Regions from separate parts of the Homo sapiens genome. Here all the other regions are linked to region 3. Evidence: fine-mapped expression QTL. A gene starts in region 3. Each other region holds a variant in brackets. All regions are shown on one strand. Distances are between the middles of the regions.

Region 1 (6,147 bases), 68 kb after region 3:
CCTAAGAGTTCAAGACCAGTCTGGGTAATATAGTGAGACCCCATCACTGTATCTAAAGAAGAGGCCTGGCACGGTGGCTCATGCCTGTAATCCCAGCACTTTGGGAGGCCGAGGCAGGTGGATCATGAGGTCAAGAGATCGAGACCATGCTGGCCAACGTGGTGAAATCCCGACTCTACTAAAAATACAAAAATTAGCTGGGCCTGGTGGCGCGTGCCTGTAGTCCCAGCTACTTGGGAGGCTGAGGCAGGAGAATCGCTCGAACTCGGGAGGCCAAGATCACGCCATTGCACTTCAGCCTGGCGACAGGGCAAGACTCCATCTAAAAAAAAAAAAAAAAAAGAAAGGAAGAAAGAAAGAAAGAAAACTCAAGAGGATAAGGAAAGTCTGTTGTATTTATCCATATTTTTGTGCTTTTCATTGTTCTTTCTTCTTTACTGTTGTTCTAAGATCCTTCATTCAGCCAGGTGTGGTGGCTCACGCCTGTAATCCCAGCACTTTGGGAGGTCGAGGCTGGTGGATCATGAGGTCAGGAGTTCGAGCCCAGCCTTGCCAATATGGTGAAATCCCGTCTCTACTAAAAATACAAAAAATTTAGCCGGGCATGGTGGCGTGTGCCTGTAGTCCCAGCTACTCAGGAGGCTGAGACAGAAGAATCGCTTGAATCTGGGAGGCAGATGTTGCAGTGAGCTGAGATTGCACCACTGCACTCCAGCCTGGTGACAGAACGAGACTCTGTCTCAACAAAAAAAAAAAAAAAGAAAAAAGAAAAATTCCTTTGTTCATCATTTCCTTTCTGTTTAGACAACTTCTTTTTAGTCATTCCTAAATGGCAGGTGCTGACAACAAATTCTCCTGGTTCTCCTAATCTGAGAACATCTGGATTCCCGTCATTCTTGAATAATCTTTTTACTGGATATAGAATTCTGGGTTGAGAGTTCCTTTTTTTCTTTTCAGCACTAGAAAAGAAATGTGCCACTCTCTTCTGGACTTTAGGGTTTCTGATAAGAAATCTGACGTCTTTCCAATTATTTTTCTCCTGTAGGCAATGCGTCATTTCTCTCTGCTTTCAAGACTTTTTTTTTTTTTTTTGGCTTTAGTTTTTAGAAGTTTGGCCAAGATATGTTTTGATTTGAACTTCTTGGGGTTTATCCTGTTTGAGTTTCACTTAGCTTCCTGAATCTGTCGGTTCATGTCTTTTGTCAAATTTGGGACATTTTTAGCCATTATTTCTTCAAATACTTTTTCAAATGTAGATCCTTTCACCTCTCCACCTGGGTCTCTAGTGACACAAATGTTAGATCTTTTGTTACAGCCTCACAAGTCTCTTGGGTTCTGTTCATTTTTTTCTCTACTATTTTCTCTCTGTTGCTTGGATTGGGTAATCTTATTGTTCTATTTTCAAGTTCACTAATTCTTTATGCTGTCATCTCTATTTTGCTGTTCAATCCATCCATTGAATTTTAAATTTTGTTGATGTATATTTTGGTTCTAAAATTTCCATTTAGTTCTTTTTTTTTTTTTGAGAAGGAGTCTTGGTCTGTCGCCCAGGCTGGAGTGCAGTGGCGCAAACATCTCGGCTCACTGCAAGCTCCACCTCCTGGGTTTAAGGGATTCTTCTGTCTCAGCCTCTTGAGTACCTGGGATTAGAGGCAGGCACCCCCACGCCTGGCTAATTTTTGTATTTTTAGTAGAGATGGGGTTTCCACCATGTTGGCCAGGCTGGTCTTGAGCCCCTGACCTCAAATGATCCACCCGTCTCAGCCTCCCAAAGTGTTGGGATTACAGGCATGAGCCACTGTGCCTGGCCTCCATTTGGTTCTTTTTTATGTCTCCTGTTTCTTTGCTGAGACCCACGACTTTCTGTTCCTTTGCTGAGACTTTCTATTTTTGTGTGTTTTTTTCAAGGGTTTGTAGTTGCTCATTGAAGCATTTTCATGATGGCTGCTTTGAAATTCTTGTCAGACAATTCTAATATCCATGTCACCTAGGCACTGGTGTCTGTTGATTATTTTTCCTAATTCAATTTGAGGTTTTCTTGGTTCTTGGTTTGATGAGTCATTTTCAACGGAAACCTCAACATTTTGAGTTTCTGTTGTGAGACCTTGGAGCTTCTTTAAATCTGATTTAGCAGAGGCCTCCTCTGACTTGCTCTAGGGAAAGGGGCTGCTACTTTGTTCCTGTCAGGTGAGGTGAAGGTCCAGGTTCCCCACTCTGCCTCTGTTGACAGTCAGGGTCAGGGAAGGAGCGCCTCATCACTGTTGGGCAGTGGGTAGGGTTCAGGCTTCCTACTAGGTCTCCATCGACAACACCCTGGCTGGGAGGGGCAGAG[T/A]TCCCTTGTCACTGCTTCACATGTGACCTCCACTGATACTGTGGGGAAGCAGGATAGCCTTGTTACCGTTTGGCAGTTGCGAAAGTCCTGAGTCTCCACCAGGCTTCCTCTGAGACCACTGGAGAGGGGGCGGGGGAGAGGAGGGGGGCGGGGGAGAGGAGGGGGGCGGGGGAGAGGAGGGGGGCGGGGGAGAGGAGGAGGGCGGGGGAGAGGAGGAGGGCGGGGGAGAGGAGGAGGGGTGCTCCGTTACCACCAGCTGGGAATGAAAGTCCAGGCTTCCCATGTGGTCTCCACTGACACCCCTGGGAAGGGAGACCTCATTGCTGCCCAGCGGGATAAAAGTCCTGGCTTCCCACCCAGCTTTTTCTGACACTAGCCTGGCCAGGGGGAAGGAGATTGAAACCTCATGATAGCCTGAAGCCGTGAAGTCCAGCCTGAGCCTAGCCATGAAGCCGAGGCTCCCCACTCAGCCTTTGATGGTGCGGGTGGGGGTGGGGTCTTACATTTTTTCCTATGGTATTTGGCTGGCACAGAACGATCATTGTCTAAAAGTTTTCTGTTTTGCTAGGCCACTCCATCTTGGTCCTTTGGCAAGCAGAGCAGGATTTTCTTGGGCTTTTGTGGGGCATCTATTCCCATTGTTGTTTCCAGAATGCTGGCTTCTTTGCACACTGTCTGGGATATATGAGCCAAAAAGATAAACCCAGAGAACTCATTGCTGTGTCATTCCCTAGGCCCCAAAGTCCCTAGCTGGTTTGCCTTCTTCTCTCTGCTTTCAGATGCTTGTTTTATAGGCAGTATCTAGGGTTTTTAGCCATATTTACTGGAAAGAATAGGAAAAAACACATCTACTCCATATTTCTGAGAGTTGAGGTGTCATAGGTTGATTTAACCATGCCACTGATGCCTTTAGCTCTATCTGCCATGCAGCAGGTATCTTCTAGGTCCTTCATGGGGACCAGGCACTAGTTGAGGCCAAAGAGGAGACAAAGACTGACTCTGACTTCAGGAGCTCACAGTTTTGCGGGAACACAGGACTTTGCCCCAGGTAAGCTTGGATAGTGAAGAATAAGATGCTATAGAGGAAGGAATTACTTGAATGGCCTGGTTGGGGAGAGCTTCCTGGGAGGGTGAAAGTGGAGATAGAGTATTTTGGTAAATTTTAGAGAGGAGCTGCAGGAAGTACAGGTGCCAGGAGAGGAGCAGAGGTCCAGAGGGGTAAGTAGGGATGGCAGGAGGCAGCAGGGAGAGAGCTTGCCTGGTTGGGCCCTCAGGTGAAGCGAATGAGCCTGAAGGACACCATGCACAGGGGCTTGACAGTAGTATCTTCAGAACAGGAATCTGGGGATCAACTGTGACATGGCAATTGTGTGGGTGAGCAAAGATGGTGGCCTGGCCAGTGCAGTGGCTATGGGGTGGAGAGGAGAGAACAGGATCAAGAGGCATTTAGAAGGTAGAACTGATGGGTGTCTGGATTGATCTGGGGAAGAAAGAGAGAGGAATTAGATATGAGGCTGAGATTTCCAGCTGAGGTCTCTGGGGAAGAATGGTGCCATAAACACGCAGAGAGAGAAGACAGAGAGGGGAACCAATCTTTGGAATAAGAGGATGAGATTTTGGCCACTGGTACCCAGAGGCCCTTCTTCAGAGAATGATGCAATGAGACCGAGGTGAATATTTTCTCTGAGCACTGAAGTTTCAGATCAAATAAGCAACAGATTTCTGCTCTGTGAAAGCCCTGTAGTCGAAAGGCAGTACATTGCAAATTTCAAAGAATAAGGCACTATCCTCTACTTTTGAGAGAAAGAAATGGAAGTCACACGCCAAAAAGTTGAAGTCTCTCCTAGACTCAGATGTCCTCAGTCTTCATCACTCTCTCTGGGTCTGATGGTCAGGAGGCCTAATGCTCAAGCTGTAAGGCGAGGCTCCTTAGAACCACTTGAGTCACCTGTCCGAAGCTGAATTGCATGATGGCTTCATTCAGAGCCACCCAAATCATTCTGGCCAATCACGGGCAACTGTGGATGGTTCAATGGCACCTTCCTTTCAGAGAATAGAAGTCCCAGGAGGGCAGGGGTCTTTGTCTGATTTGTTCACTGAAGAATCCCAGGTGTCTAATAGGCTGCTGGTATATAGTAGATGCTAAATAAATACTGGTTAAATAAATGAAGGATTGCAATGGGTTTGGGGGAAGTCTGAGGCCAGGGTTAGGGGTCACACCAAGGTCAGGTTTTTAAAGTATAGGATCCCATTTTTGGTACTGAAACGTGGTTGGGGTATTTAGGGGTCTGCCTATTGGGACAAAGGTTTCTTGGAGGACATCGCACACCTCTCAACCTGAGGACTCCTTATGGGCTCAGGGGAGCAGCTACTGGCTGAGATTTTTAAAGCAGGGTCTCAGTCAGTGAAAGCCTGGCTTGCTTTCCCTGAAGAGAGCTATGCGCGTGCCTGGCCATGGGGCTCACAGCTGCCCCCTGGTGGTCAGCCACAGCCCCCTGCCAACCCTTGGGCGTGGTATTTTTCCAGCCTTAAGTCAGGCAGCAACGGCACATCCTAACGCAGGGTCCGTCTGGTTCCCGGGCCCCAGGTGGCGAGGGAACAGGAATGAGGGCTCTCCGGCACTCTCCGCTTTGCCCTTGGCCTCCTTTTTTCATCAGGGAAGACTCAGGGGAGGGCCTGCGCTGTGCCTCTCTTCAGCATCTGTGAAGATTCTGCCAGCTCCCCAGCCCCGTGCTCTCCGAGGGCATTTTTGTGCACGCAGGGCAGATTCCGGATTCCAAGAACATCAGTCATGGAATGACCTCTCTCCGGCCCCTTGGTGTGACCTCACTGTCTTGCCTCCTCCACCTGCACGTTCTTTGCCAGCCTGTAGGTCCTATCGTGGGGACTCCTCCCTGACCTCTGCCAATTTGAAGTGGGAACTCAGATGAGTGCCTCTGACTTTTTTTTTTTTTTTTTTTGAGACGGAGTCTCGCTCTGTCGCCCAGGCTGGAGTGCAGTGGCGCGATCTCGGCTCACTGCAAGCTCCGCCTCCTGGGTTCACGCCATTCTCCTGCCTCAGTCTCCCGAGTAGCTGGGACTACAGGCGCCCGCCACCACGCCCGGCTAATTTTTTTGTATTTTTAGTAGATACAGGGTTTCACCGTGTTAACCAGGATGGTTTTGATCTCCTGACCTCGTGATCCGCCCGCCTCGGCCTCCCAAAGTGCTGGGATTACAGGCGTGAGCCACCGCGCCCGACCGAGTGCCTCTGACTCTCACAAGGGCTCGTGTCTTCAGTTCCAGGCAGGCCCTGGAAGGGCATGGGGCAACATCTGGGGCGCCCCCACGGCTGCCTCTCTCTCCCCCCACGGCCCTGTGCCCCTCAGCAAAGCTTCTTCAGAACAGCTCTTTGGACAGCAGCTCTCAGGGCATCTGTAGCTGGTGCCAGCCTACACCCCCCATGCAGCTATCATGGACAGCGAGGGCATAGGCTCTGGCCATAGGACCCCACAACCAGCACCACCATGTTCTGAGTTAATGGTGGGAATTTATCTCCCAGCATGATCTGACATGGTCTGACAGCAAGCCCATGACATTCTGCCTCCATGGTGTGGACACCTGAGGCAGATGGGTTGTATGTGGGTGGGGAGATAGCCCCTTTCATCGCAGGCAGGAGGAACATGCTTAGGGTACTACGCTGTAGGGTCAGGTCTTTATGCTTCTCATCATGCAGAGCAGGCTTAGGGGCTGTGTCTGCAGCCCCTCCCTGATTCCCAGGGATGAAGAGATGGGGTAGGCTCTCCGCAGCTCTGGGGAAGTTTTATTCCCTCTTC
Region 2 (6,147 bases), 450 kb after region 3:
TGGATTTATGTATTTGCCTGTAACTTCTGTCTCCCTAAAATGCAAAAAATCAAGTTGTAACCAAACCACCAAGGCCAAATGTTCTCAAGATGTTCTGAGATGAAGTCACAGATCACGGTCCTCACATTTGGCTTGGAATAAGCCTCTTTAAATATTTTACAGAGTTTGACCCTTTTTTGTAGACATTGAGCATCTTTTCATATTTTAATAGGCCACCTTTTATTTCTTAATCTGTAAATTGTCTTCATTTTTTGAAATCAAATTTTTATTGGCTTGTTGCATTATTCTTTCTTAATTTCCAGTAGCTTTTTCTATATTAAGATTAGGCATTTCTCTATGAGTTGCAATTTGGGGAGCATTTTTTCATTTGTCTTTTGACTTTTTATGTGGTATTTTGGTCATGTGACAGCTTTGTATTATTAATTTAACACAATTTATCAAAGCTTTATTTTATAACTGTGAACTTTTGCATTATTTTTAGACAATCTTTCCTACTCTAATGTAAAATAACCTATCTTTTCTTCTTAATTATTTTATTTTATTTTTTACATTTATATTATTTTGGAACGTGTAGTAGAGATATGGATCCAGCTTTATCTTTCATCACATGGTTCCTCAATTGTTCCAATACACTTTTGGAAAAAAAAATCTTTATATATTTGAGATGCCACCTTTATCATATACTAAATTCCCATGTGTATCTGGATTCATTTCAAGGCTTATATTTCTATTCCATGTATCCATCTTTCTATCCATGAACCAGTAGCACATCATTGTAGTTAATTGAAGTTTGACCATACTTTTAATTCCTGGTAGAGCCAGACCTTTTCAGAATCTTCTTGGCTCCTTTTGCTTATTTTTCCAAATCAACTTTAGAACTAGTTTGTCTAGTTCTAGGGAAAAAATACCCGGTAAGCTGTTAGTATTTTTAAAAGAATCATATTAATTAAATATTAAATTAATTCTAAAATAATTAAATTAATAAAATTAAATTAATATAAATTTAATATGATTCCAATAAACTAATGAGGGGAAATGACTCATTAGATGTTGAATATTCCTATGCAAGGACATAGTATATCATTCCAAAAAGGTGACAATTATCAAAAAGACATAATACTTTGAATTTCTATGTACCTAAGTACCAAATGATACAGTTTGATAAAGCAAAAGTACAGGAGCTACAAAGAGAAAGAAACAGGAACACACTAACAATAGGGGATTTTAATTTAACATTCTTGGTCCAAGAAAGATCAAGTGGACAAAAATTAACTAAGGAAAATAAGCAACGAGGTAGATATAGGTGGAACTCTGCATCCTAATAACAATAAGTGCATCTTCTTGACAAAAGCACATGATCATTGATGATAACTGACCCCATATTAGCCACCAGAAAAGCTCAATGAATTTGAAGAAGCAAGTATAATACAGGCAATGATCTCCAATCACATCATCACATTGCAATGAAACTAGAAATTAATAACATCAGAAAAAAACTGGGAATTAAAATAAAACCCTTATTTTTGCTATTTAAATTGCAGTCTGTAAACAGCAGCATCTGTTTCTCTTGTGAGCTTGTTAGTAATGCAGAATCCTGGGTGCCCCAGGTCTTAGTTGGCGTCTACATTTTATAAGATACCCAGATAATTTGCAAGTACATTTATGTTTACTCATTGTTTCCAGAAAACAATGAGAAATAAAATACACATCAGAACTGTGAGACATAAGCAGAGCAGAGCTCAGAAAAATTTTAGTCTTAAATACTTATATCAACAAAATTAAAACTAAGTAAATCAATGCATTAAGTATCTAACTTTATTTTATTTTATTTTATTTTATTTTATTTATTTATTTATTTTGGGACGGAGTTTCGCTCTTGTTGCCCAGGCTGGAGTGCAATGGCGCGATCTTGGCTCACCGCAACCTCTGCCTCCCAGGTTCAAGCGATTCTCCTGCCTCAGCCTCCCTAGTAGCTGGGATTACAGGTGTGGGCCACCACACCTGGCTTATTTTGTATTTTTAGTAGAGACAGGGTTTCTCCATGTTGGTCAGGCTGGTCGCAAACTCCCGACTCAGATGATCCGCCCGCCTTGGCCTGCCAAAGTGCTAGGATTACAGGCATGAGCCACCGTGCCCGGCCAAGTATCTAACTTTAAAAAATAGGGAGAAAACACAAAATAAACTAAAAGAAGAAGGAAGAATTTTATAGTGATGGAAGCAAAAATCAATGCATTAGAAGAATTGTAGAATTAACAAATTAGGATCTATTTCTCTTAAAAAATGAATGAAATAGATTGACAAGCAGTAAATTTAATCAAGCAAAAGGGAGGAAGCACAAACAATAAGAAAAGGCAAAAGAAAATAACCTCAACAACTTAATAATTTTAAAAAATAAGGCTATTTGTACAATTCTATACAAGTAGGTTTTCAATATGCAAATGTGAATGAAATTCTAAAACTTGGATGTAATAAATAATTTTCTTGGAAGATATAATTTACTAAAATTAATTCCAGAAGAAACACAATGATTACATGAAACAAAACTATATGGACAAGTTTTCATTAGAGAAATAAAGTATTTAAAGAATAAGCCTCCATCAACTCATAGAACATATATATCAGCCCAGATAGTTTCACATAAGAATTATTACTAAGCTTCCATAGGATAGGTTATTACAATGCTATTTGAACTTTTCCAGGACATATAAAAAGTTGCAAAATTTTTTATATAAGGTGGATAACGTTGACACCAACATGTAACAAAAATTGTACAAAAAAACCTACATGTTAATCTCACTTGCAAATATACATATTACAGTTGTAAATATAACAACAGCAATTAGATTCAAACAGCTCATTAAAAGACTAGTAGCAGGACCACAAAGTTTCCATTTCAGAAATGCCAGGATAGATTAGTATTAGGAAAGGTATTCATTACAAGTCAGCATATGATATGGTTTCACTTTGTGTCCCCACCCAAATCTCATCTCCATTTGTAATCCCCAGGTATTGAGGGAGGGACCTGGTGGGAGGTGATTGAATCATGGCAACAGTTTCCCCCATGCTGTTCTCTTGATAGTGAGGAAGTTCTCATGAGAGCTGATGTTTTGAAAGTGTTTGGAAGTTCCCCCTTGCCCTAGTCTCTCCTGCTGCCGTGTAAGACTTGTCTTGCTTCCCCTTCTGCCATGATTGCAAGTTTCCTGAGGCCTCCCCAGCCATGTGGAACTGTGACTCAATTAAGCCTCTTTCCTTTATAAATTACCCAGTCTTGGGTATTTTTTATAGCAGTGTGAAAACAGACTAATACAACATATTAATAGATTTTAGGAGAAAATTTTTAACATATTGATGCTGAAAAGGCATTTGACCCATTCTTAAAACACTTTTTAAAAAGAAATTTGTAAACAGTAGAATTAGGAACACAGTAAGGATGCTCATTATTACCTTTTCCATTTAATATTGTGCTGGAAGTATTTGCCACTTTTATTGGACAAAAGCATGATACTTCATTTATAAACACTGGGAAAAAGAAGGTTAAATTCTCCCTATTTGTGGATAATATGGCCTGGAAAATCTAAAAGAATCGACTGAAAATCTTTACAAACAAAAAGAGACTGCAGCAAATAAATGGGCTATAAAAATTAATACGTAGGAATCTATAGCTTTCATATATAACAACAGCAATGAGTTGGAAAATGTAGTGGCATAGATGCTTTTGTTTTTATTAGCAACAGAAAATATAAATATCTAAATATAAACTTCACAAGAATCATGTAAACTTACATGAGGAAAAGTTTAAAACACTCCTGAAACACACCAAGAGCGGACATGGAG[T/C]CTTCATTCTAACAATCTGTGTATTGGTTTGAATAATTCAATACCCAATGTCTTTAATTATCTAACCATGGTTAAGGCACTCCCTTGCCAAAGATTTTAGGGATGGATGTGTGACCCGTTGCTGGCCATTGAGATGTGAGGCAATATCTGCTGGCATAGGGCAAAAGTCTCTCACCCTTAAATGGAACCCCAAGGAAGATGCAGACTCTTCCTTTCTGCAGATCTTATCATGTCTGGATATGATGCCTGAAACTGCCACAGTTACTTTGCAACCATGCCCAGGGCCAGCACGGTCAGGATGCTAAGTGGAGACCTGGTAGGAACTGGGCTTCTTGGTGACATCCTCGAGGCATTGATTATGTGCTGCTTGGAGCCACCAACCTGTGGACTTCCTGATAACATAAGGTAATATATTTCCTTAATGTTTCAATTAATTTCAAGCAGATTTTTCTGTTTCTTGCTGCCAAAGCATTCTAGCTGGCCCAATCTGTCTATTCCATCCCCAGAACCAGTTTTAATTGCCATTGCTTTATAATGTTTCAGCCTACAATCACCTTCTTTGGGGTGAGAGAATAATTCTTTAACTTTCTTAATTTCTTCCTTAAGTGATTTAACCATGTGATTCCAATTGAGTCAATTCTAGTCATCTAAATTTCTTAATACAATTTCCATCTTAAATGATTTTCAAAATAAAAGCACTTAATTATACTGTAATTTTTAAAAACTTTTATATAAGTTCTAGCCATTTTTTTCTTTCCTTTTTTCATTTTGATTATGGCATTTTAAAATTAGATTTTCCAGCAGCTGGGCCATTTTACTGATTCTTTTCAAAGACGTTCTCTGAGATTCACTATCTATTCATGCCATTGTGCGTTTTCCTGCTGCTAATTTTACTTTTTGTTTTTATATTTTAATATATTTATTTCTGCTTCCTTTGTTCCTTTTTTCTTCACTTTTTAGTTGAAATTATTTTCTCTTGCTTTTACTTTTAAAAATGTAACATGCATTTAATACTACAATTTATTGAGAACAACTTTACGCATATTCCATAATCTTAAATGTGAATTATTCTGATTCTCATTATTTTTCAATTAGCTGTTTTCAAATCCCTTTATTTCCTCATTAATCAGAAATTTATTCAAAAGAGTATTCATAAAATTTGTTTAATCTTTTGTTGTTGTTTCCAGTTGTTATACTTTCCTTTGAGAACATAGATTGCATATATTCATCTTTCTGACTTATGATTTTTGTTATTATTTTTCTCATGCCTGACTACATTTTTCAATACTTTTTAATATCCTGTGGCTAATTAGCAGGAAACTGTATTTTGCAACGCAAATACAATATGCTTTATAAGATAAATAATAACTGCATAAGACAAAGTTTGAAATAGTTATTAATTATAGTTTACTAATTATATTGTTTCAATCATTCATGTCATCATTTTTATATACTTTATGATGACAAATATGAAAGTTTGAGGAATTAGTGTTGGGAAATTCTAAGGGTAGAACCCATAGTTAGGCTTAGGCCTAAGAGTAGTGGAGTGGCTGTGCATGACCACAGATTTGTTGTGATGGGAATTTGCAGGAGGGAGGAAGCTGCTTGTGAATGGCAAAAAAACACAAAGTACTATAACTACTGTGTTTAACGGCCCTGCTGGGAGAACAGAGGAGCTGCTCAGTAACTGTTTGCTCCATGAAATAATAAATTTTTTCCCCCTCAAACTGTTTGGTTGAAAAATGGGCTATGCCAAAGGCAGTGAAGTTAATTATCCCCAGGAGAGGCAGGCTAGGTAAGAAAAGATGGCCCTGGGGACCATGTTGGATTGCCCTGAGTTGCTGGATGTTCCAGGAGGAGGGAAGAGATGATTTAGCTTGAGCTTTTCAAACATGTTTTGTTTGTTTGTTTTGCTTCAAGGATCCAGAAAGTGGGATTTTTTTTTAAATCCCAGAAGTTATTTTACGGGGATTGGTGTGCATTGGACAAACAGCATGAAGAACCAGGAGCAGACACTGGCCCTGTCCATAGCACTTAGGCCTTACTACTTCACAGAGCCCCTTCCCACTCTTGACTGCCAGTATCTCTATTCTGTGTGAGGGTTCTCTCTAAATTCCCTGAAGGCCACTCTACCCACACTCATCGTAGGGCAGCTGCAAGGGCTGGTATCAACTCTTCTGGGAGCAGACCTCAACCATGGTCTGCCCAGAACTACTGTACAGCTATCCTAGATCTTCTGCTTCTTGGGTGAGAAAACTCTAAGGCATGTGCTCTACACTTGCAATCAGAGGTCTCCACTAGAGATGAAGCTCT
Region 3 (6,147 bases):
AAGACTTCCCCTTACGGTTTGTTTTAAGGAGACTCCTAAAAAATGTCTTATGCAGTCAAGACAGGCAGTTTATAAATGTACTGGGTTACTTCAACATTAGTGACTTTAGTTAGTAAAGCTCTTGTTTTTTTTTTTCTGCTTCATTTTTCCTTCATAAAAGCCTTGTTTTAAATTAACTTATCTGAATTAAATTAATTGATATTAAGATTTTATTTAAATCATGCATTAAAACCAAAACATCCCCAATTGAAAAATCAACTTTCATTAATTTTTTTTTACTCTTACAAAAAAGAATTTGAACGTGGTAAGAATTTTACTAAGAATAATGTATCCTGAACTGACCATGGAAAATTTCCCCTTCAAATTAAAAGCAAATGTTTTAAACAGAGGGAATATACATAAACAGATGCTGTGGAAGACTGCTTAGTTTACATTTCATTTTCCACTGAAAACTACTAGGAATTAAAATACATGTGATTTTTAAAAATATTACAGAGAATCTTAAAGAAAACAGAACCCATACAATTATTCATATCATCCAATATAAGCGCCTCTTAATTTTTTAAAACCGCTATTTTGAATCCAAAGATCATAATAAAAATAGCTTTTTTTTCAGACGGAGTTTCGCTCTTGTTGCCCAGGCTGGAATGCAATGGCGCGATCTAGGCTCACTGCAACCTCCGCCTCCGGGAGTTCAAGCGATTCTCCTGCCTCAGCCTCCCGAGTAGCTGGAATTACAGGCGCTCGCCACCATGCCCGGCTAATTTTTTGTATTTTTTTAGTAGAGACAGGGTTTCACCATGTTGGCCAGGCTGGTCTCAAACTTCTGACCTCTGGTGATCCACCCACCTCGGCCCCCCAAAGTGCTGGGATTACAGGTGTGAGCCACCGCACCCGACCCATAATAAAAATACCTTGGAGGTGTGTTTCTTGTAAATGAGTGGCTAATTTCCCAACACCCTGTAAAAGTATATGGGTAAAAAGAAACTGAAAATCATCATGCAACCAGAGTTAACAACTATCTTGCAAAATTCATATCATTTGTTTTAAAACCAAAATAGCAAGGAAGAGCTGGTGTTATCCCAATAGCCTCTTTTTAATTGGTCTACAACAACTGCAACTCTTCATAACTTTACCAACACAACAAAGTCAGGCAGGCAGTCTGACAGAGTCAACGTTTGTGGGAACCTACAGCGCTTCCTTCTCTCTCTGGAGATGAGGACAATGAAAAAAGGTGTTCTGTTTTCCAGTAGTCCTGTAAGAGGAGCCATTGAGCTGGGCTGTACAACCAGACAACAGAACACAGGAAAATTCACATCAAAGCAAGGGCGCATGCCAGGGTAATATGCAATAAAACCCTCTGCCAAAGCATTAAGGGGAAAAAAAAGCAAGGAGGTAGAGAGAACCTGCTGGACTACCTTCTCATTAACACAGGGAGGCAGAAAGAAACAAAATCTGCCTGTATTCAGGAGCGGAGAAAACTGTGTCCTAGATATATTGGAGTATTCCTATAGACATGTTTATGAGCATTCGGACAAATTATCAATGAACTAAACCCAGAAAGCAGTGTCCTGTACGGTGGAGTATTCCTATGTAGACAGACATGAGAATCTTACCATTAACTAAGCCCAAAAAGGCAAAGTATTCTAGAAACACAGATATATGAGAATTTAGATGCACATTTCCAATGAATAAAACCCACTGGTTTTACAGTGAGAAAAAACTGTTTGAAATAACATCAGGTAAAGAATTGGGTAAAGGTGTGATGAAGTTATATCCCCTCCCCTTTTCCTCATACCCTTTTTGACAATCTCTGATTCTCTCATTTCATAGATGTCCCTTTCACTTGAATGCGCACACACACACACACACACACACACACACACACACACATCATTAGGTCTCCAGAAACAAAGGAGGGTCCTTAATTCTCCGGCCTGTGGAACCACACACGCCCCCTGCCCACAGATGGTGACTTTCATTAATGAGTAAGCCGAGGGAAGAGGTCTCCACCCCGACCACTGCCATGCACACTGTGACAACGGGGCACGAGACAAGCGCCACAAAGAAAGGGGAGGAGTGGACGGGGACCAGGAAAACACTGCCACGCCGCACCCCCCAAGGCGCGCGCCCACCGCCAACGCGGGGGCAGCGTCCTCGCCATCCTCCTCCTAGCCTCCCAGCTCATCCCAGCCGCCTCCCACGCCCGGGGACCCGATGCCAGGGCTTGGGCGAGCAGGACGTGCGGGGGCCCACGCACCTTCCCTCCGTGATCTCCAGGTGACAGCCCCGCTCCGCCCTTTGTGAGGGACTCACCCTCCAGTCCCGGGGCCGCGCCGGACCCTCCTCCGCGTCCCTCCTCAGCCTGGAGACACCGCCTCACCCCTGCACACCGCGCCCGGCCGGCCGAGGCGCCGGGAGAGTGTGTGTGTGTGGGAGGCTGGCGCGGGCCCGCGGTCTCCTCAGCATCCCGAACCCGGAGCGGCTCGGTCCCCCAAACCCCAGCCCGGGGGCGGCGGCCGCGGCGCTCCCGCCCTCGCTCGCTCACTTACTCGGGCGCGCCGGTGGCAGCGGCAGACGTGCGGGACCGTCAGCGCCCTGCGGCGGGCGGCAGGCTGCGGGCGGCGAGCGTCCGTCCGGACAGAGCGCGGCGGAGGTGGCGGCGGCTGACTGCGCCCGGCGGCCCCTCGCGAGGGGCGGGCCCGCCGGGGGAGGGGCGGGCGCCGCGCCTCTCATTCATGCAGCGGGGGCGGGGTGAGGGACCCGGATGCCCGGGCAGTTTCCCCACCCACCTCGGCGGAGGGCTCGGCGGCTTCAGAGTCTGCAGTGCGCAGGCGCGGCGCTCCCTGGCCAGGCCTGGTGCGGCCCTGGCCGCTGGCTCTGTTCCTGGTTAGAACTACGCCAGACAGGCCGGGCGAGGTGGCTCACGCCTGTAATCCCAGCACTTTGGGAGGCTGAGGCGGGCAGATCACGAGGTCAGGAGATCGAGACCATCTTGGCTAACGCGATGAAACCCCGTCTCTACTAAAAATACAAAAAATTAAATTAGCCGGGTGTGGTGGCGGGCGCCTGTAGTCCCAGCTACTTGGGAGGCTGAGGCAGGAGAATCGCCTGAACCTGGGAGGCGGAGCTTGCAGTGAGCCGAGATCGTGCCACTGCACACCAGCCTGGGCGACAGAGCGAGACTCTGTCTCAAAAAAAAAAAAAAAAAACAACTACTCCAGACAGACCTTCTCCATCGACCGTTTAGTATTTTTGCGTGCCCTACAAGCATTTTTAAAAGTGAAAGCATGGGGCCGGGCGCAGTGGCTCACGCCTGTAATCCCAACACTTTGGGAGGCCAAGGCGGGTGGATCACCTGAGGTCAGGAGTTCCAGACCAGCCTGACCAACATAGAGAAACTCTGTCTCTACTAAAAATACAAAATTAGCTGGGTGTGGTGGCTCATGCCTGTAATCCCAGCTACTCGGGAGGCTAAGGCAGGAAAATCTCTTGAACCCGGGGAGCGGAGGTTGCAGTGAGCCAAGATCGCACCATTGCACTCCAGCCTGGGTGACAGAGCAAGACTCCGTCTCACACACAAAAAAATGAAAGATTGGAATGCCACCCCTTTCCTAGCATGCAGATTGACAGTCCCCAGAGACACAAGAATGGTCACGTGGTGCCCATTGGTTTGATGGGGAGATGGTATGCACCGCACCCTCCTCCATCTGCCCCTCCTGCTGCAGCCTCTCAGCTGAGTGCTAGAACCTTGGTGATGGATGAGACCTAGACTCTGCCCAGATAGTGGAGAGAGGTGTGTGCAAGAAACAGTGCATTCCTTTATTTACATCCACTCCTCAACCTCCGGCTCCCATTCTACAGGGCAGGCAATAAATTGACCTCCGATTTTGGGAGGCTGAGCTCTTCCTGCAATACCAAGGCAAGGATCTGGGGAGTCCTCTCTTGTCTTTAGCAGGCAGTGTATTCTGCAGATACTCTCTTGTTCCCATCGCCTTGTGTCTGCCACTCCTGGGGTACGGAAGTTTCTGGAGAGGCTAGGAGCCTGCAGAGGGAATGGCTGTGAAGCTCCACAGCTGACTGTGTGTGCGCTGCAGCTCAGAGCTTGCAAAAATGATTGCCCCCTCTTCCTCAGTCTCCATGTGTCCCCCAGAAGTTCTCCTTCCTTCTCCTAATCTCTCAGGCCCCATCACATAAACCATAAACAGCTCAGTAGCTTAACTTTGGGAAGCAAAAGTCATCATGGCAAGCGCCTAGAGGCATGTTCCTTCTGCTTTGGCAAACCATTAACCACCAAGGCAGGGAGGAAGTAAAGAGGGAAACATTAGTGAATTTCTCAAGAAGTCACCTGCCACCCAATGGTCACAGTCCCCCAAAGTGAGAGAAGGGTGGAGGCATGTGCTAGGGAGACTGTGGCAAAAGGAAGGGAGTGGGAGACCCAGGCTTCCTCTAGAGCTGCCTGTGCCAGGGCTGTGCTGGGGGAACACTGCCCTCCTTGCTGTCAATCATAGCAGTTACCTGGAGGGTCTTTTCAACTTTGCTTTGCTCAAACCTCTCACTGTTCTAAATCAGCCCCCTCATCTCTCCCCTGGGCTGTTGCAGAAGTCTCAATCCATTCTCATGCAAATCGATTCTCATGGTATTCAAATCTGCCTGTGTTTCTGTCTTTTTCTTTTTCCCTGCCCCATCTGGCTCCTTGAGCCTTATTTTCCAGCCATTTACAGAACAGCACCATGGTGTTTCACCTCAGTAGTCACCAAGGTGACTGCTGTTTCCTGCTGTTCCCCTACTAGGAAAGCAATACTTACCTAGCATGCAAAAGTTGCTCTTTTCTCTGAAAATCCACAGATGCTTTTTAGGGCAGTGAAAATACTCTGTGTATGATACCATAATGGTGGATACCTGTCATGACACATTTGTCTAAATCCATAGAATGAATAATACCAGCAGCAAACTCTAATGTAAACATGGATTTTGGGTGATAATGATGTGCCAATGTAGGTCCAACAATAGTAATAAATGCTCCCGTGGGAGAATGTTTATAATGGGGGGGCTATGTATGTGTAGGGGGGAAGGGCTAGTTGGGAACTCTGCACATTCCTCTCACTTTTGTGGCAAACTTAAAACTGCTCTAAAAAAAAGTAAAGTATTTACAAAGTCATTTTTGATAAAGTATTTTTTTCTGCCCCCACTTATTGACAGACTTTCCTTGAGAATCCCCACCTGTGCCCTGTACCCACTTCCCTCTCAGCACTAGGCACCCTCCAAGGTCCCTGCTCATTTGCATATTTTCTTACCACACCAGCATGTGAGTCCTTCATCAGCAGGATCAGTATCTCCCAGGACCTAATATGTGACTGGCACATAGTGGGTCTGCTGTGGCTATTGGTGGAGGTGATGTTCCCTGGTGGGCTGGGGAGGCTCCACAGGAGAAGGAAAGGCTGAGCTCCTTTTCTTTCTTCTTCCTTATTTTGGCTTCCTTCCTCTGCCCTGCGTTTGGAAACCTGTTTTGTTTGTTTGTTTAGAAAGCTTGGCTAGTAATTCACTAGTCCAATCAGGCTGTAGGGTAGAGGATGGAGTGGCTCATTTCATGTCTTTTGTTCTTGAAAAAATTAGGGGTGAGTGGGAAAGAGAATGAGAGAATGAACGGAAGGAGGAGGGGCCGTGTCCAGTTGCTGTTTTCAGGGAGACTCATCTTATTAAAATTTTGCTGTGTCATCAACTGGCCCAACTGGTTTTTAGGGTCAAGGAGAAAGTTTTCCTTTGGGACTGGACAGGTGGAATCTGGCCTCACAGTTTCTACAACATATGGCAGGATCCTGCTCTTCTGTCCCCTGTAGCGGGTTGTCCCGTGTTCCCCTTAAGGAAGAAATCACAGTTTTTGTCCTCCTGGTGCTTCCGGCTGGAGGTTCACCTGCTAGTCCCTGATCCTCTTTGCTTAGTGATGCACATGAGTCTACTCATCCCCCCACCACTCCCAGCCCCCACTGGTCTAGGCAAAATGCAAGTGATGGGAGAGTGTGGGTGGGCAATTCTTTCTCTGGAGGGTTTAGGTGGGTACCTCAAAACAGCAGGCAGCTAGGACTTGAAGTGGTGGCTTCGCAGCTAACATTTTCCTTGTTCCACATGATGGGTAGGGGTAGGGTA
Region 4 (6,147 bases), 74 kb after region 3:
AGTTAAATTCCAACATGAGTTTTGGAGGGGACATTCAAACCATAGCATGTCCCCACCTGATCCATGCGCATTCTTTGTAGACCAGTGGTCCCCAAACTTTTTGGCACCAGGGATTGGTTTTGAGGAAGACAATTTTTCCTCAGACGGGGTAGGGGGGAGGGGATGGTTTTGGGATGAAACTGTTCGACTTCAGATCATCAGGCATTAATCAGATTCTCATAAGGAGCGTGCAACCTAGATCCCTCACATGCGCAGTTTGCAGTAGGGTTCGTGCTTCTATGAGAACCTAATGCTGCTGCTGATCTGACAGGAGGCGGAGCTCAGGCGGTAATGCTCACTCACTTGCAGCTCACATCCTGCTGTGTGGCCCAGTTTCTAACAGGCCATGGATCAGTACTGCGGGAGCTGGAGACCCCTGCTGCAGAGGATCTGACTCTTTTTGGCCCTGGGAGGGAGTGGTTCACAAAAGAAAAAGAAAATTACAATAGTCCCCCACCTTATTGGCAATTTTGCATTCTGCGGTTTCAGTTAGATGCTGTCAATCACAGATTGAAAATATTGAATGGAAAAATTCCAGAAATAAATAATTCATGTTTTGGCCAGATGGGGTGGCTCACACCTGTAATCCCAGTACTTTGGTAGGCTGGGACGGGCAGATCACTTGAGGTCAGGAGTTTGAGACTAGCCTGGCCAACATTGTGAAACCCCTTCTCTACTAAAATACAAAAATTAGCTGGGCATGGTGGTGTGTGCCTGTAGTCCCAGCTACTTGGGAGGCTGAGGCAGGAGAATCGCTTGAACCTGGAAGGCAGAGGTTGCAGTGAGCCAAGATTGCACCCTTGCACTCCAGCCTGGGTGACAGAGTGAGACTCAGTCTCAAAAAAAAAAAAAAAAAGAAAAAGAAAAAGAAAAAGAAAACCAAAAAACAAAATGAGCAACTCCCATTTTAAATTGCCTGCCATGCTGAGTAGAGTGAATCATCCCTCTGTCCAGCACGTCCATGCTGCATATTCTTCCCGCTCATTAGTCACTTGGTAGCTGTCTTGGCTGTCAGATCAACTGCTGAGGTATCGCAGTGCTTATGTTCAGGTAACCCTTACTTCATTTAATAACGACCCCTGGATGCAAAAGTGGTGATGCTTAACATCATCACAACATAATTATTATTAACAATAATAACTGAGAATAAAATAGAACAGTTGTTATAATTGTTCTATTTTATTATCAGTTATTATTGTTAACCTCTTAACTGTGCTTAATTTATGCATTATACTTTATGGTGGATATGTACATATAGAAAAATCCATAGTATGTATAGGGTTTGGTACTATCTGCGGTTTCAGGCATCCACTGGGGGTCTTGAATGTATCCCCTGCAAATAAGGGGGGGGACTAGCGTTTCTGTCTTCACCAGGCCTAGATGTGTCTTGCCTGCCGAGGAAAGATGTATAGTTAAGATGTGACAATTATCTGTCAGTTGGTGGAGTTTCACCCACTTAGTTGGTCTTCTTACTGTATTTTGAGATATCTTTATTTACAGGAGGCAAAATAGAGGTCCTGGGTCAGTCCTCAGCCCTCCACCCCCAGCCTTTATGCCTAGGAGACTTTGAGTTGATGGGGAAAGATGGTTTCTGCCCTTGGGGGACCCACACAGGGTCCTTAGTATAGAGCCTGGCGCTCCACAGGGACCCGGTATTGAATATGGGATGGAGAGGAGCAAAGAGATCCTGCCAGGGAGGTTGTAGGAAGATCAATGGGTCACAGAAGCTACAGAAGGGCACACAGTAAGGCCGTGAGAGTGGGTAAAAAGGAGTGTGGGAGCTCTCACCTGCTCTGTGCTGGGATGTGGGTACTGGTCTCCTGGGAGTGAGCAGTTGGGCCCTCACCCAGTTGGAGGGCCCAACCACAACCACGGCAAATCCCAAAGGCCAGGAACAGGGACTAATGTGGGGTCCAGGGATAAAAGCAGATTTCTGAGATACAGAAAGCCCAGGGTCTGGCCTAAGGGGCAGCTGATATGCCCAAGAGCAAGTTCAAGGGCAGAGCAAGTTCGAGTGTACTGCAGACAGCCTTGGGACAGGGACATCCAATTTCATGGGCCAAGGAGAACAGTGGAAAGTCCAGGTAGTCAGGAGCCCTTGAAAGTCTAGAGGGTGGTGGGCTTGGTTGGGATGTGGATGGACATATATATATATGTATATACATATATACACACACACCATGGTGTGTGTCTGTGTGTGTATATATATATATGTGTATATATATATACACACACATACCTGATATGTTATACCTGACATATGTTATATACATACATACATATACATATATACACACACATATATATATCTGATGGTTTTATATATATAGGGAGGTGTGTGTTTGTGTGTGTGTGTGTATATATATATGTGTATATATATGTGTATATATATGTGTATATATATGTATATATATGTGTATATATATGTGTGTGTATATATGTATATATGTGTGTATATATGTATATATGTGTATATATGTATATATATGTGTATATATATGTGTATATATATGTATATATATGTGTGTATATATATGTATATATATGTGTGTATATATATGTGTATATATATGTGTGTGTGTGTGTGTGTGTGTGTATATATATATATATATATATATATCAGTTTGCCCTTGCTGGATAACAAACCACCCCAGAACTTACTGGCTTAATGCATTAACCATTTATTATTTCTCTAGGCTTTTGCAATCAGATGCTGGGTTGGCTGGAAGCTGGCTGGTATAGCGTGGCCATGCAGCAGGCTAGTCTAGGCTTAGTCACATAGTGATTGCAGGGTTTCAGGAAAACAAATGAAAACATGCAAGATCTTATAAGGTCTTTACTTGGAACTGACAGACTGTCACTTCTGCCAAACTCTTTTGGTCAAACAACTCTCAAAGCCAAGCCTCACTTGAAAGAGTTTGGGAAAAAGTTCTGATTCTTTTGTTTGTTTGCTTTAGAGACAGGGTCTTGCTCTGTCACCCAGACTGGAGTGCGGTGGCGTAATCATAGCTCACTACAGCCTCGAACTCCTGGGCTCAAGCAGTCCTCGCAGCTCAGCCTCCCGAGTAGCTGGGACTACAGATGTGAGCCACAGCACCTGGCAAAGTTCTGCTTCTTGATGAGAGATGTTACTAA[A/G]TCATATTGCAAAGGGAGGGGTGGAGAATTGCGGCCATTTTTGCAATCAATCTAACGCAACACCCACTTGTGAAAGACAGAAACCTGGGTGACATCCTGAGTCCTTCCTCCCACTTCTCCGACATCCGTTACCTCACCAAGCCAATTTGATTTTCACCCCCCAAAACGCCATTCAACTTTTCCTATTGCCACCACCCCAGTCCAAGGAACTTGTCTACCTGGTCTACTCACATTTGCTGTAGCTGTGCTCTACTATCGTGGCCACATAGCAGCCTATAGGACTTCTTCAAAGTACAAGCCAGGTCCCATCATTTCTCCCTGCCCATACCCTTCAAAGACTCTGTATTAGTCCATTCGCAGTTGCAAGCAGAAGAAACAGGCTCTGATTATGGCAAAAAAAAACACAAAAAAACAAAAAACCTAATGGAAGGGTATTGATTAGCTCACAGAATATCTTGAAGACTGGACCCAGAAATCACGCAGGCACCAAAGGTAGCAGCTGGATAGCCAAGACCACGATGAAAACCATGCTGCTGGAACATCTGGGGGACACTGTGGCCATCACCACCATGTAGCCAGGCCCCAGGATGCTGCTGCTGCCACCACTGCCAGGATGAATAGTTCACTGTCCTTGGCTTCTTGTATCACTCACTACAGGCTCAAAGAGCTGGGTGGAAGCATCTGATTGGCTAAGCCTCCAGTTTCCATTTCATTTCTGTGCTGACTCGGTCAGTGGAGGATTCCTAGGAATTCCCAGGATGAGGAAAGATGCTGGAAATTCAGTTGTTCTCAACCTTTACTGTGTTTTGCAGGTTCCCAAAGCCACTGGGGGCTGGGTGGGTATCTTCTCTGGCACATGGCATTTCTGCTGTAATAAAGGTTCTTTTAGTTAAAAGTCACAAACCCCTTATGGTGTAAGTGATAAGGTGGTGGGGATGGGACCTTTGTTTTTGCAAAGCTGTAAAGAGGAAAAAGTTAGTCTGGGCCCCTGAAGGAAAAGACATGAATCATTAAGTGAAGAGCATGGCTGAATCCCTGCGTCATCAGGGAGAAACCAGAGGAGGCAAATGTGTAAGAAAGATTCCCCTGGGCCTGGGAAGGGGAGCCGACAGAGGATCCCAGCTGCAGGAGGTCGGGCCTCAGGACCCCTTAGAACTTCATGGACTGTCCCAGCCAATGTGAAAACCCTGGGCCATGTCTGTTCTTACCCGGGAAAGAGGAGGAGAGAGGCTGGCTGGGGTCAGCAGTAAACCGATAGGGGACTGAAATGGACACTGTGGGTGCCTCGCCCAGACCCCTTTGCAGGATAGGGTGCATCTGCGGCTGCTGTGCCTGTTGGGTCACAGGGGCCTTCTCTCTTCTCTAGGGAATTGCCCTTTGCCCAGTGGGAGTCACGCCCACTCCCACAGCCTGCAGCCTGTGGATGACTGACATATAAGCCCTGCTGCCTTGCAACCAAGTGAATCTTATCTGAGGTGCCGCGACCCAGTGTCCTTGTGGGGTCAGCCAAGGCTAGATACATTTCTGCCCAGCAGTGGGGGTGACAGCGGCCTCTCCTACCATGCTGTGAAGGCGAGGGCAAGGGAAGCAGCTGCCAGGCTCCCGGGGCCTCCCTTATCTCAGCCCCTACCCACCCACCCAAGTCCAGAATCGGCCTCACACCTGCCCTGGATTCCACTTCCTCCCTGCTCTTGGGAGCCAGAGAAAAGATGTCCCAGGCCCGTTGACTCTCTTTCGCCCTCTCGTGGGCCCGCTGAGAACGGTGGTGATTCCCATAGAATTTTTCCCTAGGCTGCTTGTCCAAAAGCGGCCCGTTGGGACTTAGGAAAGGAGGGAGAAGGGATCAGGGTGATAATTCGTAGCTGGTGAGATTGAAGGTAGTTTTCCAAGCAAAGGGTTTGATGGTTTTTTTTTTTTTTTTTTTTGAGAGAGCGTCTTGCCCTGTTGCCCAGGTTGGAGTGCAGTGGTGCAATCATGGCTCACTGCAGCCTCAAACTCCTGGGCTCAAGCGATTCTCCCAAGTAGCTGGGACCAGAGGTGCGTGCCACCATGCCCAGCTAATTTTTAAATTTTTCGCAGAGACGGGGTCTCCCTGGGTTTGGTGGCTTTACTGGGGGGATGTTTGGTAGTCTTCCTTAGGAAACCTTGGCATCATGAAGGCTAGGCCAGGAAGCTGGTCTGAAGGGGCTGCTTGATGCTGTGACTGATTTCTGTGGCCTTGAGCCAGCCATCATGTCTTTGTCAAGTAGAGAGAATCAGACAAGGTCCTGTAGCCTGGAGGTAATGGGTGAACTTAAAGTGTAATTACACATTCAAGAGAGCTTCACCATCTCAAATCACACTGATCTTGCCGCCTATTAAACTTCCACCAGACTTCTCATTTTAGCTATGCAATCTTGTATTTGATTATCTATTTTCTTTCCTGTATATACTCCAGCCTCTTCCTATGGGTCTTTCTGCTTCCACACTGCACATTGCAACCAGAACTCACTCACTCAACACCATTTGGCTATGACACTAAAAAGCTTTCAAGAATTTCCCACTGCACTTACAGTAAAGTCCAAATTATGTTCCATGGCCCCCAAAGACCTGCACGGGCAAGGTGTGGTGGCTCACGCCTGTAACCCCAGCACTTTGGGAGGCCAAGGTGGTTGGTCTCCTGCCTCAGCCTCCCGAGTAGCTGGGATTACAGGCATGTGCCACCCTGCCTTGCTAATTTTTTGTGCTTTTAGTAGAGACAGGGTTTCACCATGTTGGCCAGGCTGGTCTCGAACTCTTGACCTCAAGTGATCTGCCTGCCTCGGCCTCCCAAAGTGGTGGGATTACAGGAGTGAGCCACCACGCCTGGCCTTGTGTGTCTTCTTGACTGGGCCATGGGGTGCCCAGGTATTTGATCAAACATTGTTCTGGGTATTTCTGCGAGAGTGCTTTTGGATGAGATTAACACTTAAATTGTTAGACCAAGTAAAGCAG

The links.
Region 1: its variant is fine-mapped to the expression of RNF24 in whole blood (TOPMed, PIP above 0.99). The same link has a PIP of 0.9 or more in blood mononuclear cells.
Region 2: its variant is fine-mapped to the expression of RNF24 in cerebral cortex (GTEx, PIP 0.96).
Region 4: its variant is fine-mapped to the expression of RNF24 in whole blood (TOPMed, PIP above 0.99).

Annotation. Positions count from the first base shown.
Region 1 is chr20:4,080,621-4,086,767 of GRCh38, forward strand. No RefSeq gene overlaps it. Among named protein-coding and RNA genes, the nearest start is that of SMOX, 65 kb to the right of the region's middle. RefSeq lists enhancers at 1,617-1,816, 1,730-2,231, 2,232-2,731 and a cis regulatory region at 2,101-2,798. The variant T/A (reference allele first, on the strand shown) is at 2,333.
Region 2 is chr20:4,459,878-4,466,024 of GRCh38, forward strand. No RefSeq gene overlaps it. Among named protein-coding and RNA genes, the nearest start is that of ADRA1D, 210 kb to the left of the region's middle. The variant T/C (reference allele first, on the strand shown) is at 3,835.
Region 3 is chr20:4,012,885-4,019,031 of GRCh38, forward strand. It overlaps RNF24 (ring finger protein 24), which reads right to left and starts at 2,674. Exons shown (of 6, transcript NM_001134337.3): 1 at 2,553-2,674. RefSeq lists a silencer at 2,181-2,780 and enhancers at 2,664-3,596, 3,800-4,401.
Region 4 is chr20:4,087,128-4,093,274 of GRCh38, forward strand. No RefSeq gene overlaps it. Among named protein-coding and RNA genes, the nearest start is that of SMOX, 59 kb to the right of the region's middle. The variant A/G (reference allele first, on the strand shown) is at 3,175.